2 separate regions of the Homo sapiens genome follow, and region 2 is linked to region 1. The links come from fine-mapping of genetic effects on gene expression. A gene starts in region 1. The other region holds a variant in brackets. All regions are shown on one strand. Distances are from middle to middle.

The links.
Region 2: its variant is fine-mapped to the expression of TNNC2 in whole blood (INTERVAL, PIP 0.92).

The regions. Positions count from the first base shown.
Region 1 is chr20:45,823,076-45,831,403 of GRCh38, forward strand. It overlaps TNNC2 (troponin C2, fast skeletal type), which reads right to left and starts at 4,237. Exons shown (of 6, transcript NM_003279.3): 1 at 4,171-4,237; 2 at 1,708-1,759; 3 at 1,420-1,563; 4 at 1,217-1,331; 5 at 916-1,052; 6 at 139-304. The coding sequence starts at 4,173. The coding sequence ends at 273.
Region 2 is chr20:45,763,224-45,771,551 of GRCh38, forward strand. LOC124904915 (a long non-coding RNA gene) reads left to right here. Exons shown (of 2, transcript XR_007067610.1): 2 at 1,935-4,357. Among named protein-coding and RNA genes, the nearest start is that of WFDC3, 24 kb to the right of the region's middle. RefSeq lists enhancers at 1-576, 1,510-2,442, 2,443-3,374, 7,844-8,328. The variant A/G (reference allele first, on the strand shown) is at 3,388.

The DNA of each region.
Region 1 (8,328 bases):
CCTTCCACATCCCGCCGCTCAGACAGCCTCTCCCGGGGATCCCCAAGGGTGCTCCGGGTGGTGCCAGCCGGGATGGCGCCCTGGACCACAGCCCTTGCGACCTGCTGTCCTCGGCTCTCCCCTCATTCAGGCCACGAGTTTTGGAACATTTGCTTTTATTCCTTCCAGACAAAGACCCACAAGGGGTCGCGCCTCCCTGGTGGGGACCCGGCAGGGCGGAGTCTCCCACACCCTAGGGACACGCGATCTTGGTAGAGGCGACTGTCCACTCCTTACTGCACGCCCTCCATCATCTTCAGGAACTCTGAGGGAAAGGAGAGGGAGAGGGTCAGGGGTCCCACTGGGGACGCAGAGGCCAGGCCAGGGCTCCAGCCACACAGAGGGGATGACTTTTTGTTTTTGTTTTTGTTGAGACAGAGTCTCACTCTGTTGCCAAGGTCGCCAAGGTCTGTCACCCAGGCTAGAGTGCAGTGGCACAATCATAACTCATTGCAGCCTTGATCTCCTAGGCTCAAGCGATCCTCTTACCTCAGCCCCCGGAGCAACTGGGACCACAGGTGTGCCACCACACCTGCCTTTTTATTTTATTTTATTTTTTGTAAAGACAGGGTCTCACTATGTTGCCCAGGCTGGTCTCGAACTCTTGGCCTCAAGCAATCCTCCCACCTCATCCTCCCAAAGTTCTAGGATTTTACAGTCCTGAGCCACCACGCCCCCCTGCCTGGTCATTAATTGATAAACTGCACAGAGTCGTGGAGCGCTTCTATACCTGCCCCCAGGAGACTATGGGGAACTTGGTGAAGTTACGCCCAGCCCAGCCCACAAGGCCAAGGACACTGCACCGGAGCCAGGCACCAGTGCCCGCCGTCCTCTGGGGCTCCCACCCGCTCTTCCCAAGCTCCCGTTGGCCCTCACCGTCGAAGTCAATGCGGCCGTCGTTGTTCTTGTCGCCGTCTTTCATCAGAGATTCGATCTCCTCGTCCGTCACGTGCTCCCCGGAGGCCCTGAAAATCTCAGCCAGCTCCTCCGGGTCGATGTAGCCGTCTGCATTCCTTCAGGTCCGAGGGACAGGGCAGGGCTCAGGGCCGGGGCGAGCTGCCCTGGCCACCACACTCGACGCCCCGCTTCCGCACTCCCAACACGGGGAAGCTTCCAGCGCTGCCGGCCGGGTTCTGACTGCTAAGCCCCTCCCTCGGCTCCCGGGCCCCCAGCGCACCTGTCGAAGATGCGGAAGCACTCGGCCAGCTCCTCCTCGCTCTTCCCTTTCGCGTCCTCTTTCATCTGGCGCACCATCATGACCAAGAACTCCTCGAAGTCGATGGTGCCGCTGCCTGCGGGCAGCAGGTGGCAGACTGAGCCTGAGCCCAGCCGCTGCCGCCTCTCCCCACCATCCCCTGCCTCCGAGGGACACCCGCTCACCGTCCTCATCCACCTCCTCGATGATGGCGTCCAGCTCCTCCTTGGTGGGTGTCTGGCCCAGCATCCTCATCACCGTGCCCAACTCCTTGACGCTGATGTCCCCACCACCATCAGCATCAAACATGTCAAAGGCAGCCTTGAACTCTGCGAGGGAGGGCAGAGGGCAGAGGTGAGGCCTGCTGGACTGTCAGCCTCACACCTACCCCCCCCCAACCCCCACCCTGCCTAGAGGCCAACATGTCCCCAGCATACATCCACCCAGCCCCCAGCCTGCCGCGCCTCACTCACCAGCGATCATCTCTTCGCTGAGGTAGGACCTGGCCTCAGCCTGCTGGTCCGTCTGCAGGAGACACAGAGAAAGTCTGAGCTGAAGAGGCAGCCCCAGAGCAGTTCCTCACCTCAAAGCCATTCTTCCCAACCCCCACTCTGTCAGCGCCCTTGGTTCTCCAGAAGAACAACTTCAAACTTGTCACATAATTGTGTGCCCGCACAGCACCCAATCACAGTTTTGTTTTGTCTCGTTCTGTCACACATGCTGGAGTGCAGTAGTGTGATCATAGCTCACTGCAGCCTCAACCTCCTGGGCTCAAGCAATCGTCCCACTTCAGCCTCCTGAGTAGCTGGGACTATAGCATACACCACGCCTAATTTTTAAAATTTTTTGTAGAGATGGGGTCCCACTATATTACCCAGGCTGGTTTTGAACTCCTGGGTTCAAGTGATCCTGCCACCTCGGCCTCCCAAAGTGCTAGGATTACAGGCTTGAGCCACTGTGCCCAGCTTCTGACCCCAGTTTTTGTTTTTGCTTTTTGTTTTTGTGACAGTCTCGCCCTGTCGCCCAGGCTGGAGTGCAATGGCGTGATCTCGGCTCACTGCAACCTCCACCTCCTGGGTTCAAGCGATTCTCCTCCCTCAGCCTCTCGAGTAGCTGGGATTACAGGCATGCGCCAACACGCCCAGCTAATTTTTGTATTTTTAGTAGAGACGAGGTTTTACCATGTTGGCCAGGCTGGTCTTGAACTCCTCACATCAGGTGATCCGCCCACCTCGGCTTCCCAAAGTGCTGGGATTACAGGCGTGAGCCACCATGCCCGGCCTGACCCCAGTTTTTTTTGTTTGTTTGTTTTGTTTTGTTTTGAGACGGAGTTTTGCTCTTGTTGCCTAGGCTGCAGTGTAATGGCACGATCTCAGCTCGCCACAACCGCAACCCCCACCTCCGGGGTTCAAGCGATTCTTCTCCCTCAGCCTCCCGAGTAGCTGGGATTACAGGCATGCACCACAACGCCCGGCTAATTTTGTATTTTTAGTAGAGATGAGGTTTCTCCATGTTGGTCAGGCTGGTCTCGAACCCCCTACCTTAGGCGATCTGCCTGCCTCAGCTTCCCAAAGTGATGGGATTACAGGCGTGAGCCACCGCGCGCAGCCTGTGACCCCAGTTTTGAGCAAAAGAGAGGAGACAACAAGTTAAGCCCAAGGCCTTCTCACTTGTCAATTGAAGGCCAAGTCGGGAACCCCCCCCACCCCCCAGTGACCTTAGGCACGTCAATTAGCGTGCCTTCATCTTTTCTCTGTAGCTTTTCAGGGATGAGATATCAGGGGTGTGAAAGGGCTTTGTAAAGGGCTAGCACCATTCCAGCACTATTTTCCAGTTTTCTGCAGCTCCTAATGGTGCCCGGTACTTTAATAGTTGCTCAATAAAATGTTTGTTCTCAAATAAATAATAATGCAACACAAAGTTATTGAGTACTTGCTGCATGTCAGGCCACAGATCAGGCACTGGAACCACAAAGAAGAGATAAAAGACACATCATCCCGCCCCTCAGAGAACTGGCAGAGTCGGAGGCTGTCAGCTTCCTTCTTAGGATTCAGTCATTGGAGAAAAGGCCCCTCATGGGGGGCCGAATGTGATGGAGGCCTTGACATGAAAGTGAGATTTCTGCAGGGGTTTCCACGTCATATCCAAGCCAGGCCATCTGGGTCAGAGGCTTTGGATTGAGGCTGGCAGTGAGGACAGGGTGAGGCTTCCAAGGAGCTCTTCAGCCAGCTGGCCACCAGTGCTCCTCCTTCTCCCCCTCCTTCCTCTCCTCCTCTTTCCCTATGCCAGGAGGGCAGGCTATTTTTAGTCAGGCATGGGCAACAGCAGCTGGCCTCTGGGATCTAGTTACTCCTTGAAGTGAAGTGGGGAGGGGGATCTCAGACCAAAACAACAGCTCCAAATCAGAAGCCCTCTCTAGGAGAGCGGAGTCTCTCTAACTCTGGTCTGTCATCTTCTGCCCCTTCCCATCATCCTCAGGGCTCCCAGAGCCCTGCATCTGAGCAGGCCCCACGCCCTGCCGGCCTCCCGTCTTCTGGAGGAGGCTTTCTTCTCTCCATGATGATAGGAGGGTTTGGCCAGGCTTCTGGCTCACCCCTGCCACTGGCCTGCTGGGTGACTCACTCTGACCCCTCAGAGTCCCCACTGTGTGAAGGAAACAAGCTAAGAGCTCTTCACAGGTCTATGAATGACACTGCTGGAAGTTTCCAGAAGTGAGTAGGCAGTCAGCAAGCCTTAAGGATCAATCTCTGGAATATCCCAGCCCTCCCCTTTCAAGAAAAGTCAAAGGCCTTCCTCCAAGACACCTGGGTTCCAGGAACCTCCATGCTCCAACCTCAAACATCCAAGTTACTGCCCCACAGAGCACCCAGGCCTGGCCTGAAAGGGGTCCAGAGTGCTCCCGTGAGTAAAGGCACAAAGTCCCCTCTTGTCCTTACCATGGTTGCTGGTGACCGGGACTCCTCTGTTGCAGGTCGCCTCCTTTGCACTCCACCACCCAAAGATGACCTGGCCTGCTCTAGCCCCCGGGATTTGTAGGGGCACCCTCCCCTCCCACCTCCCTGCTCCCCAGCACTGGAGACCCTGCCCAATCAGATCCTGGGGTCAGCGAGTCCCACCCCTCCCACAGTCTGAACCCATTACCTAATTTAGCCAAGGGCCCTTGCAGAGAAATTTAAGCCTCCAAGCAGGTGGCAGGCCTTGACGTCCTAGATTCTTGTGAGGAAGGCCTGCCCTGTTCCACTGCCTTGGAGTCCCCCCGACCGAGGAAGCACACTGGCTCCAAGATGGTAAGGATGATCAGAGTAGTAAAGGGTGAGGCAGCATGGTAAAATGGGGAGAGTACAAGCCTTGAAGTCCAAAACCCAAGATCCAAGGCCAGCCTCTGCGAGTTGTGTGACCTTGGGCCGGTAGCAGTGCCTCTCTGAGCCATTTCTTCATCTGTGGGATTGGACCTGTCTGTGGGGTCTCCCTCACAGAGAGACCATGGTAAATGGGAACCCGGGTATAAGTCACCTAGCTTGTGCTGGGTACACAGCGTTGGTGCTTGGCAAGAGGAATGTCCCGTCTTTGAACCATGGTAAGGGGCAGGGGATAGGAGGAGAAAGTGACAGGTAGGCCACTGTTTACTGAACCCCATGACGTGCCACACACTGTGCTAAGCATTTTAACATGATCTCATCTAGTGCTCCTCCTATGAGGTAGCAACGATTATCCCCACTTGACTGCAGAGCTTTGTAAATTATAAAGGTCTATACTCACTCTGTCACCAAGGCTGATGTGCAGTGGTGCTATTATAGCTCACTGCAGCCTCTATCTCCTGGGCTCAAGTGATCCTCCCACTTCAGCCTCCCGAGTAGCTGGGACTAGAGGTGCACCACCACCCCTGGCTTTTTTTTTTTTTGTATTTTTATAGAGATGGGGTTTCACCATGTTGCCCAGGCTGGTCTCGAACTCCTAGGCTCAGGGGATCCTTCCACCTTGGTTTCCCAAAGTGCTAGAATTACAGTCATGAGGCACCATGCCCACCCATGTTGATGATTCTTATTATTAATCCTGACTGGAGGGAAGTTGGGACAGACAGTCCTTGGGGCACCTGTCCAGATGGAAAAATGTATGGAGGGATGGAGGAGAGGAGGATGTGCATTTGGAGGAGAAATAATCATTGAAAGCAAAGATCCTTCTCTGAAAGTTACCTTCTCCAGGGAAAGGGTGTTTGGATTCACTTTTTTTGAAGTAAGGAGTAGGCAGGGGAAGGTTCTTTAAGTGGTAAAAGGACAGCTGGCCCCTTCCTAGAGCTCAGTGAAGAAATCTGGTCATCTGGGGAGTAAAGGGGTGGGCAGACCAAGTCCAGAGGGAGCCCAACCTGAGAATCCACAAGGTGCAGGCTGGGCACTGGGGAGTAGGCAAGGCTTGTAGACAGTGGCTACGTGGACAGAAAGAGCACCAAGACAACCGATAGCAGGCTCTGGGGCCAGGAAAGGGGGGCTGGACACCAAGGAATGCAGATGGACAGTGGCAACTGGGCTGCCCCCTTCCCCTATATATAGACATTCCCAAGGAAAGCTCAGCAGGGCTGGGCCAAGCTAAATAAGGCCTCCCCCAGGCAGGCAGGGTGCCAAAGGGTGAGGGAGACCCATGGGATTCCAATTTAGTTTTTATTGTTTTTTGGTTTTTTGGGGTTTTGTTTTTGAGACAGACTCTCACTCTGTCACCCAGGCTGGAATGCAGTGGCACAATCTCGGCTCACTGCACCCTCCGCCTCCTAGGTTCAAGTGATTCTCATGCCTCAGCCTTCTGAGTAGCTAGGATTACAGGCACATACCACTACGCCCAGCTAATTTTTGTTTTTGGTTTTTTTTTTTTTTTTTTTTTGAGACAGAGTTTTGCTCTTGTTGCCCAGGCTGGAGTACAATGGTGCAATCTCGGCTCACCACAACCTCCGCCTCTTGGGTTCAAGCAATTCTCCTGCCTCAGCCTCCCGAGTAGCCGGAATTACAGGCATGAGCCACCATGCCCGGCTAATTTTGTATTTTTAGTAGAGACAGGGTTTCTCCATGTTGGTCAAGCTGGTCTCAAACTCCCAACCTCAGGTGATCCGCCCACCTCAGCCTCCCAAAGCACTGGGATTACAGGTGTGAGCTACCACACCCGGCAAATTTTTTACTTTTTGTAGAGACAAGGTTTCATCGACCGGGCACGGTGGCTCAGGCCTGTAATCCCACCACTTTGGGAGGCTGAGATGGGCGGATCACGAGGTCAGGAGATCGAGACCATCCTGGCTAACACAGTGAAACCCCATCTCTACTAAAAATACAAAAAAATTAGCCGGGCATGGTGGTGGGCGCCTGTAGTCCCAGCTACTTGGGAGGCTGAGGCTGAGGCAGGAGAATGGTGTGAACCTGGGAGGCAGAGCTTGCAGTGAGCCGAGATCACACCACTGCACTCCAGCCTGGGCAACAGAGCAAGACCCCGTCTCAAAAAAAAAAAAAGTTTCATCATGTTGGCCAGGCTGGTCTCAAACTCCTGACCTCAAGTGATCCGCCTGCCTCAGCCTCCTAAAGTGCTAGGATTACAGGCATGAGCCCCTGAGCCCAGCCTTTGTTCTTTTGTTTATTCAAGGGATTAGGTAAGGCCCAAATTGCTTAATGTAGCCAAGCAAGGTCCCATTGGCCCTTCTAATCTCACTCCTTCCCTCCACATCATGTTGCTGTCTGCTCTGATCAGACTTTAAAATACTGCTCTAGGCTGGGCACGGTGGCTCATGCCTGTAATCCCAGCATTTTGGGAGGTGCAGGCTGGCAGATCACGAGGTCAGGAGTTCGAGACCATCCTGGCCAGCATGGTGAAACCCTGTCTCTACTAAAAATACAAAAAATTGCTGCTGGGTGTGGTGGTGGGCGCCTGTAGTCCCAGCTACTTGGGAAGCTGAGGCAGAAGAATCACTTGAACCTGGCAGGCGAAGGTTGCACTGAGCCAAGATCATGCCACTGCTCTCCAGCCTGGGCGACAAAAGGAGACTGCATCTCAAAAAAAAAAAAAAAAAAAAAAAGACTACTCTAAACACCACCTTCTATGAACCTTCAAGCCTTTGCACATGCTGTTTTTTTCTGCCAGAAACTCCCATCTTTCCTCTCTTCATCTGTCTACTTCCCTATCATCTTTCTAAGCTCTAACATCACTTCCTCGGGGATCCTTCCCCCACTGTGTCCAGACCAGGGAGTCCAAGGTGGTCTCTAGTAGTTTCCTCAATCATAGCACTGAGCATACCTTATGCTCACAACCCATTCTATGTTCTACAGATCATCACATTTCCCAGTGCTCAGCACTTGCTATGTAGCAGGTGTTCAACAGATATTATATTCTACATAAGAATAACTGAACTGGATGGTATTTAGTTCAATATAAGGGGGAACTTCCTAATAGTCATAGTTGAACAATAATGGGAACAGGTGGCCTCAGGAGGTAATGAGCTCCGTATCACTGAGTATACCCAAACAGGAGCTAGATGACCATTTCTCAGGGAGGCTGTAGGGAGATATCCATACAGAATTTAAGAATGGGGGCAGTGGCTCACACTTTTAATCCTAGCACATTGGGAAGCTGAGGCAGGTGGATCTCTTGAGCCCAGGAGTTCAATACCAGCCTGGGCAACATGGCGAGACGCTGTCTCCAATTAAAAAATTAAAATAAAACAAAGAATGGTGGGTGGTAGCTCATACTTGTAATCCCAGCACATTGGGAGGCAGAGGTAGGAGGATCTCTTCAGGCCAAGAGTTCAAGATCAGCCTGGGCAACATGCAACCCCACCTTTACAAAAAATAAAATACTAGCCAGGCATGGTGGGCACATATCTGTAGTCCCAGATACTTGGGAGGCTGAGGTGGGAGAATCACTTGAGCCCAGGAGTTTGAGGCTGCAGTGAGCTATGATCGCACCCCTGCACTCCAGCCTCACAACAGAGTGAGACTCTGTCTCTGAAAGAAGAGGCCGGGCACGGTGGCTCATGTCTCTAATCCCAGCACTTTGGGAGGCTGAGGCAGGTGGATCATTTGAGGTCAGCAGTTCGAGACCAGCCTGGCCAACATGGTGAAACC
Region 2 (8,328 bases), 60 kb before region 1:
ACAAGAGCCAGGACCGCACCCTGTAGCCTTTCTGTGCAAACAACTTGACCTTACTGTTTTAGCCTGGCCCTCATGTCTGCGTGCAGCGGCTGCCGCTGCTTTAATACTTTTAGAGGCCCTAAAAATCACAAACTATGCTCAGCTCACTCTCTACACCTCTCATAACTTCCAGAATTATTTTCTTTCTCACACCTGACACATATACTTTCTGCTCCCCGGCTCCTTCAGCTGTACTCACTCTTTGTTAAGTCTCCCACAATTACCATTGTTCCTGGCCCGGACTCCAATCCGGCCTCCCACATTATTCCTGATACCACACATGACCCCCATGACTGTATCTCTCTGATCCACCTGACATTCACCCCATTTCCCCATATTTCCTTCTTTCCTGTTCCTCACCCAATCATGCTTGATTTATTGACTGGCGGTTCCACCAGGCCTAATCGCCACACACCAGCAAAGACAGGCTATGCTATAGTACAAGCCACTAGCCCACCTCTTAGTACCTCTCATTTCCTTTCCATCGTGGAAATCTATCCTCAAGGAAATAACTTCTCAGTGTTCCATCTGCTATTCTACTACTCCTCAGGGATTATTCAGGCCCCCTCCCTTCCCTACACATCAAGCTCAAGGATTTGCCCCCACCCAGGACTGGCAAATTGGCTTTACTCAACATTCCCCGAGTCAGATAACTAAAATACCTCTTAGTCTAGGTAGACACTTTCACTGGATAGGTACAGGCCTTTCCTACAGGGTCTGAGAAGGCCACCGCAGTCATTTCTTCCCTTCTGTCAGACATAATTCCTCAGTTTAGCTTTCCCACCTCTATGCAGTCTGATAACAGACGAGCCTTTATTAGTCAAATCAGCCAAGCAGTTTTTCAGGCTCTTAGTAGTCAGTGACAGACTAATGGTCTATTAAAAACACACCTCACCAAGCTCAGCCACTAACTTAAAAAGGACTGGACAATACTTTTACCACTTTCGCTTCTCAGAATTCAGGCCTGTCCTCGGAATGCTACAAGGTACAGCCCATTTAAGCTCCTGTATAGACGCTCCTTTTTATTAGGCCCCAGTCTCATTCCAGATACCAGACCAACTCAGACTGTGCCCCAAAACACTTGTCATCCCTACTATCTTCTGTCTAGTCATACTCCTATTCACTGCTCTCAACTACTCATACATGCCCTGCTCTTGTTTACACTGCCAGTTTACACTGTTTCTCCAAACCATCACAGCTGATATCTCCTGGTACTATCCCCAATTAGATGTCCTAGGTCCTCCCAATTCTTAGTCCTTTAATACCTGTTTTTGTCCTTCTCTAATTCCGTTTATTTTTTAATTCATACAAAACTGTATCCAGGCCATCACTAATAATTCTAAATGACAAATGTTTCTTCTAACAACCCCACAATATCACCCCTTACCACAAAATCTTCCTTCAGCTTAATCTCTCCTACTCTAGGTTCCCACGCCGCCCCTAATCCTGCTCGAAGCAGCCCTGAGAAACATCGCCCATTCTCTCTCCATACCACCCCCAAAACTTTTCGCCGTCCCAACACTTTACCACTATTTCATTTTATTTTTCTTATTAATATAAGAAGACAGGAATGTCAGGCCTCTGAGCCCAAGCTAAGCCATCATACCCCCTGTGACCTTCACATACACATCCAGATGGCCGGTTCCTGCCTTAACTGATGACATTCCACCACGAAAGAAGTGAAAATGGCCTGTTCCTGCCTTAATTGATGACATTGTCTTGTGAAATTCCTTTTCCTGGCTCATCCTGTCTCAAAAAGCTCCCCTACTGAGCACCTTGTGACCCCCACTCTGCCCTCCAGAGAACAACTCCCCTTTGACTGTAATTTTCCTTTATCTACCCAAATCCTATAAAATGGCCCCACCCTGATCTCCCTTCGCTGACTCTCTTTTCAGACTCAGCCCGCCTGCACCCAGGTGAAATAAACAGCCACGTTGCTCACACAAAGCCTGTTTGGTGGTCTCTTCACATGGACGCGCATGAAAAGAAGAATACTTTAAAAAAAAAAAAAAAAGCAGCATCAGCACCACCTGGAAGCTTGTTATTTATACAGAATCTCAGACCCACCTGAAACCTACTGCATTGGAATTTGCATTTTAACAACTCTGGTGATTTGTTTTCTCATTTCACAAGTTGTAGTCTGTGAAAAATCAGGAGCTATCAGGAAAGGAGATCTACTCCCCTGGCTACTGCGAATCAAGGTTTCTTCTGCATCTACGACTGCTACCCATAAAATGTGAAATACCCTTCAGGAATCTATACGGCTCTAAAGACTCATAGTGAGATGTTAAGTATCCCTTTCTCCTTCCTAATAGCAGCCTATTTCCTTTCAAGGAATTCTCTTCCCCTGTTCTATGTCTTGTTGTGAGGGTTAATTTCAGGTGCCTGCTAACCCAAACAAGCCAGAGAAGCAATTCTTTTCTCTAGGTTCTCAACCAGGGGTGATTTTGCCCCCCAGGGGACATTTTGGCAACATCTGGAAACATATTTGTTTGTGACAAATGACAGGGAGAGATTCTGGCATCTAGTGAAAAGCAGCCGGAGCTGCTGCTAAACATCATATAGTACCCAGGATGGCCCCTCACAGCAAATAATTATCCAGCCCAAAATATTAATAGGACCAAGGCTGCGAAACCCTGAATGAGTAATTACATATATTCTCCCTCTTTCAGGAAGTCTCAATCTTGAGAGAAGGGGGAAAGAGAAATAGAACATCGCTGTCACAGCAGCGTCACTGTGACCCAACTCTTCCTGCCTAGATGACCTGCTTCCTCCCTCTTGACCCTCCAGAGTGCTGTCAATTCCCTACCATGGAGCCCTAGCTTTGCATAAATCATACGAGCCCCAATTTCCTTCCAGTTCACTGTCATTTGCCCAAGTCAGCCAGTATCTTTCTGTTGATGGTAACCAAGAACCCTTACGCCCAACCATCCAATTAGAGGAGGGCTCCATTCCAGGGCAGGGCAGGCTTACCCAGCTGCTAGGCTAAGCACACACTTCAAGCATCAGCAAGTAACTGACAAGTTCAGCTTGAATGAACTTAACCAGAATTTGCAGTCAAGAAAACTAGAAAGAAACTGTTTTAATTTCAGTATAAGTGTTTCATTTTGCATCAAGTGATTTAAACAGTTCATTATTTGGGACCCTGATGTTCTGGGCCATCAGGTGGGGCAGGTTTGCTCTGGTTTTGAGTTTCAGTGCTAAGAAGGAAGAGGAAAACGAGAGAGAAGAGATTGAGTTGTTTATATTATCTGGCCTCAGGTGAGAGAGTACTGGAATGAGAAGCCTATGTTTAAAGGAAAAAAATATTAAAACTGGGAAAGTATTGAACATGGAAAGATGTAACCT[A/G]TACAATGAAGTACAGCACAATGGAAGAACCTAAAAATTAAAACCAAGAATACATATATATATTTCTTGATATATATATCAAGAAATAGCAATCTATCTGCAAGCCGAAAAGTGTTGCAGAAGGAATGGAGGCTTTGTCATCGAATACACCTGCTGGTTTAACCAAACTAAGATTGAAAGTAAAAACCTTAGCCTGGGAAACATAGCGAGACCCCATCTCTACAAAAACTGAAAAAAATAGCCAGGTGTGGTGGTGCATGCCTGTGGTCCCAGCTACTTCGGAGGCTGAGGTAGAAGGATTGCTTGAGCCCAGGAAGTCGAGGCAGCAGTGGGCCGTGTTTGAGCCACTGCACTCCAGCCTGGGTGACAGAGTAAGACCCTGTCTCAGAAAAAAAAAAAGAAAGAATGTAAAAGCGTTTGAAGCCATTTGGCAAAGATCATGGAAAACAGGGCAAGCAATAGCTACAGAGTTCCAGAGCCATGTTAAATTAATAAATAAGTAAATATTTAAACATTGAATACCTTAACAATTAAAAATCATATCTATCTATTATATTGTTGAATGACAAAAGCCTATTACAGGATGATTCTACCTATATCGACATTTGCATATATGCATAAAGCAAGTCTGGAAGGACCTTCACAAGCATGTTAACAATGGTCACCTATGGGTAGGGAGATCTTCTTTGAATTTTTTTTTTTTTTTTTTTGGTGCATTAGCGATCTTGATGGTTTCAAATGTCATCACCAGGGAATGATAAACGCTGGGGCCTACTTAGGGTGGAGGGCAATAGGAGAGTGAAGATTGAAAAACTACCTATCTGATATTATGCTGATTACCTGGGTGACAAAATTTTCTGTACACCAAATCCCCAAGACACACAATTAGTGCGTGTAACAAACCTGCATATGAATCCCTTTAAAGTAAAATACAAGTTGAAAGGAAAAAAATAAAACCTCTTCAATCATCTTTCAGATAGCAATTTTTTTCATTGCTTCTTCAGTGTACATAAATATTCTTTTACATCATTCACACTTCTTTGAACTTTTCTGTACTGTTTAAATATCGCAATAATGTTTATGCATCCTATTTTAAAAACAACAACAACAAATTAAAAAATAAAAAGGAGAAGGAGGAAGGTGAGGAGGAGAAAAAGAATAACAAAAAAGACTTGTGATCCTAAGCATATAGACAGCTCAGAAATTGCAGGAAAGCTGAAAAAGAAAAACAAGAGAAAGGTAAAGGAAGAATGATCATTAATAATATTACTAAATTGGGCCAGGCACAGTGGCTCACGCCTGTAATCCCAGCACTTTGGGAGGCCGAGGCTGGTGGATCATTTAAGGTCAGGCGTTCGAGACCAGCCTGGCCAACATGGTGAAACCCTGTCTCTACTAAAAATACAAAAATTAGCTGGGCGTGGTGGCTAATGGTGGGTGTAATCCCAGCTACTTGTGAGGCCAAGGCTGGAGAATTGCTTGAACCCAGGGAGCAGAGGTTGCAATGAGCCAAGAGCACACCATTGCACTCCAGCCTGGGCGACAAGTCTCTGTCTCAAAAAAAAAAAAAAAAATTACTGAATTGGGCTACAGATTCTTAGAGCTGCTGATGGGACTTTCATGAACTTCTAATTCAGAGATCCCCAAACCAGACCACACATTAGAATTCCCTGAGGGCTTTTTTTAAATATTGCTCTGAATAAACACATAAACAAGCAGTTCCCTTGGCCCAACCCATCTTTGACCTACTGAATCAAAATATCTGGAATGGGATTGGGGAATCTGCACATTGACCAGCCCGTGCAAGGATCTAAAACCAGCCCCTGGCAACCACTAATGTACTTCTGTCTCTACGAATTTGCCTATTCTAGATGTTCCATATAAATGGAATTATATGGCCTTTTGTGACTGGCTTCTGTCACTTAGCATGTTTTCAAGGTCCATTCATGTTATAGAATGTATTGGTACTTCATTCCTTTTTATGGCTGAATTAATATTTCATTGTATTGATATACCACATTTTGTCTCTCCATTCACCAGTTGATAGATATTTGAGTTGCTTCCACCTGTTGGCTATTGTCCACCTGTTTCTATTTCTATGAACATTTGTTCACAAGTTTTTGCTTGAACATCTAGGGGTTTTGTTTGTTTGGTTTTGGTTTGGGTTTTTTGTTTTTTGTTTTTTGTTTTTTCAGAGATAGGGTCTGTCACCTAGGCAGGAGTGCAGTGGCACCTTCTTAGCTCACTGCAGCCTTGTATTCCTGGGCTCAACTAATCCTCCCACCTCAGCCTCTTGAGTAGCTAGAACTACAGTTATGATGCCACCACACCCTGGTTATTTTTTTAATTTTTCTGTAGAGACAAGGGTCTCACTATGTTGCCCAGGCTGGTGTTAAACTCATGTTCTCAAGCGATCCTTCCACCCCAGCTTCCCAAAGTACTGGGGTTACAGGTGTGAGCCATCACACTTGGCCATTGGATACCTGTTTTTAGTTCTTTTGGGTATATACCTAAGAGTGAAATTGCTGGGTCATATGGTAATTCCACATTTAACTTATTGAGAAACCATCAAACTTTTTAGGGTTTTTTTTTTTTTGAGACGGGGTCTTGCTCTGTTGCCCAGGCCAGAGTGCAGTGGCACAATCATAGCCCCCTGCAGCCTCAATCTCCTGAGCTCCAGTGATCCTCCCACCTCAGCCTCCCAAGTAGCTGGGACTATAAGCACATGTCACTACACCTGACTGACTTTTTTTTTTTTTTTTTAAGTAGAGACAAGATTTTGCTATGTTGCTCAGGCTGGTCTTGAACTCCTGAGCTCAAGCAGTCCTCCCACCTCAGTCTCCCAAAGTGCTGAGATTACAGGCATGAGCCACTGTGCCCAGACCACTGTTTAGTTTTTTAATGTGGCTACTAAAAAACTTGAAATTACATACATGGCTTGCATTATGTTTCTGTGAAAGAGTGCTGCTCTGGATGCTTCTTTCTGCCCAAGTATTCTACTGGAACTTACCTCTCATTTACCTTTGCCCTCACCTGCTTCCAAACAAGACTCAAGGAGGAACTTAATACTATAAAACAGCCAGGTGCAGTGGCTCACGCCTGTAACCCCAGCACTTTGAGAGGCCAAGGCAGGTGGATCATTTGAGGCCAGGAGTTCGAGACCAGCCTGGCCAACTTGGTGAAACCCTGTCTCTACAAAAAATACAAAAATTAGCTGGGCATGGTGGTGCGCATCTGTAGTCCCAGCTACTTAGGGAGCTGAAGCAGGAGGATCACTTGAACCTGGGAGGTCGAGGCTGCAGTGAGCATGATTGCACCACTGCACTCCAGCTTGGGAGACAGAGTGAGACCCTGTCACAAAAAACAACAACAGAAAATAAAATACTACAAAACAAGTTACATGAAAATGAAAGTCTTTAAACCAAGAGTGAAAAAAGGTAGGGGATCCAGGCGCAGTGGCTCACACCTGTAATCCCAACACTTTGGGAGGCCAAGGCATGCAGATCATGAGATCAAGAGATCAAGACCATCCTGGCCAACATGGTGAAACCCCATTTCTACTAAAACTACAAAAGTTAGCTGGGTGTGGTGGTGGGCGCCTGTAGTCTCACCTACTCAGGAGGCTGAGGCAGGAGAATCGCTTGAACCTGGAAGGTGGAGGTTGCAGTGAGCCAAGATTGCACCACTGCACTCCAGCCTGGTGACAGAGCCAGACTCTGTCTCAAAAAAAAAAAAAAAAAAGGTGGGGGAGGACAAGTAATAAAAGAGGGTGGCAAGAAGGATCGATTTTGTCAGAGAAACTGAATAACAACAGCTAACATTTATTGAGTGTGTGCTTTGTGCCAGGCTCTGCTAAGTGCTTTCTTTATAATCTTTTTTTTTTTAGACGGAGTCTCCCTCTGTGGCCTAGGCTGGAGTGCAGTGGCACGATCTCAGCTCACTGCAGCCTCCAAATCCTGGGTTCAAGCAAGTCTCCTGCTTCAGCCTCCCGAGTAGCTGGGACTACAGGCGTCCACCACCATGCCCAGCTAATTTTTGTATTTTTAGTAGAGACGAGGTTTCACCATGTTGGCCAGGGTGGTCTCAAACTCCTGGCCTCAGGTGGTCGACCCACCTCGGCCTCCCAAAGTGCTGGGATTACAGGTGTGAGCCACTGCACCTGGCCAGTGCTTTCTTTATAATGGACTCTTCACACCAATTCTATGAGGTAGGCAGTGTGGTAATGTTATTATACACACAAAGCTGATAAGCAGCACAAGATTATAGATTCAGACCCAGGCCTTACTCCGAAACCTGAGCTCTTGGCACCCTGGTAGCCAATGCGAAGATGGAAACATCAGCTCTAGAAAGCCCCTACCACAGAGTCTGGAAAGACAGACGATGCCCAGTAAGTTATTTCCCTGCCCATTCTCACACTAACTCAGAGGGAGAAACTTTTTCTTGATCTTGAGCTCCACAGGGAATTTGACCCTGTGGCTTTGTACAAGAAACACTAATACGACATAGTGGGTAATGTCCCCCATATCAATGTTACCAGAAATGAAGCAGCATGCCACATCATATGAAAACAGAGGGCATAATGTTAGGTCTTAATTTATTAAGTGCAGTTCAGTCGGGATCCAGGAGCTTAGACAGCTGATAGCAAGCTTTCACTTTATCTTTTAGAATGCCCTTTTGCCCTTTTGAGTCTCTTGCCTGGAAATGGTCTATGACAGACCTCTGCTGCCCTCTGGTGGGCAGAGCATGAAGCACCCAGCAAAGAATTCTTTCCAGTCACATGGCCTCTTCTTTGTTTATATTGCTGAATCTGTGGGAAGCTGGGCTTCTCCACACAATCCCTTGAGGAGAAGGCTTAACTTGTATATGAAAGGAAAGACACCTCTCCCAACTCAAGAGCAACCCACTGCCAGGATACGCTCTGGGCCTCCTGCCTTCCTCACC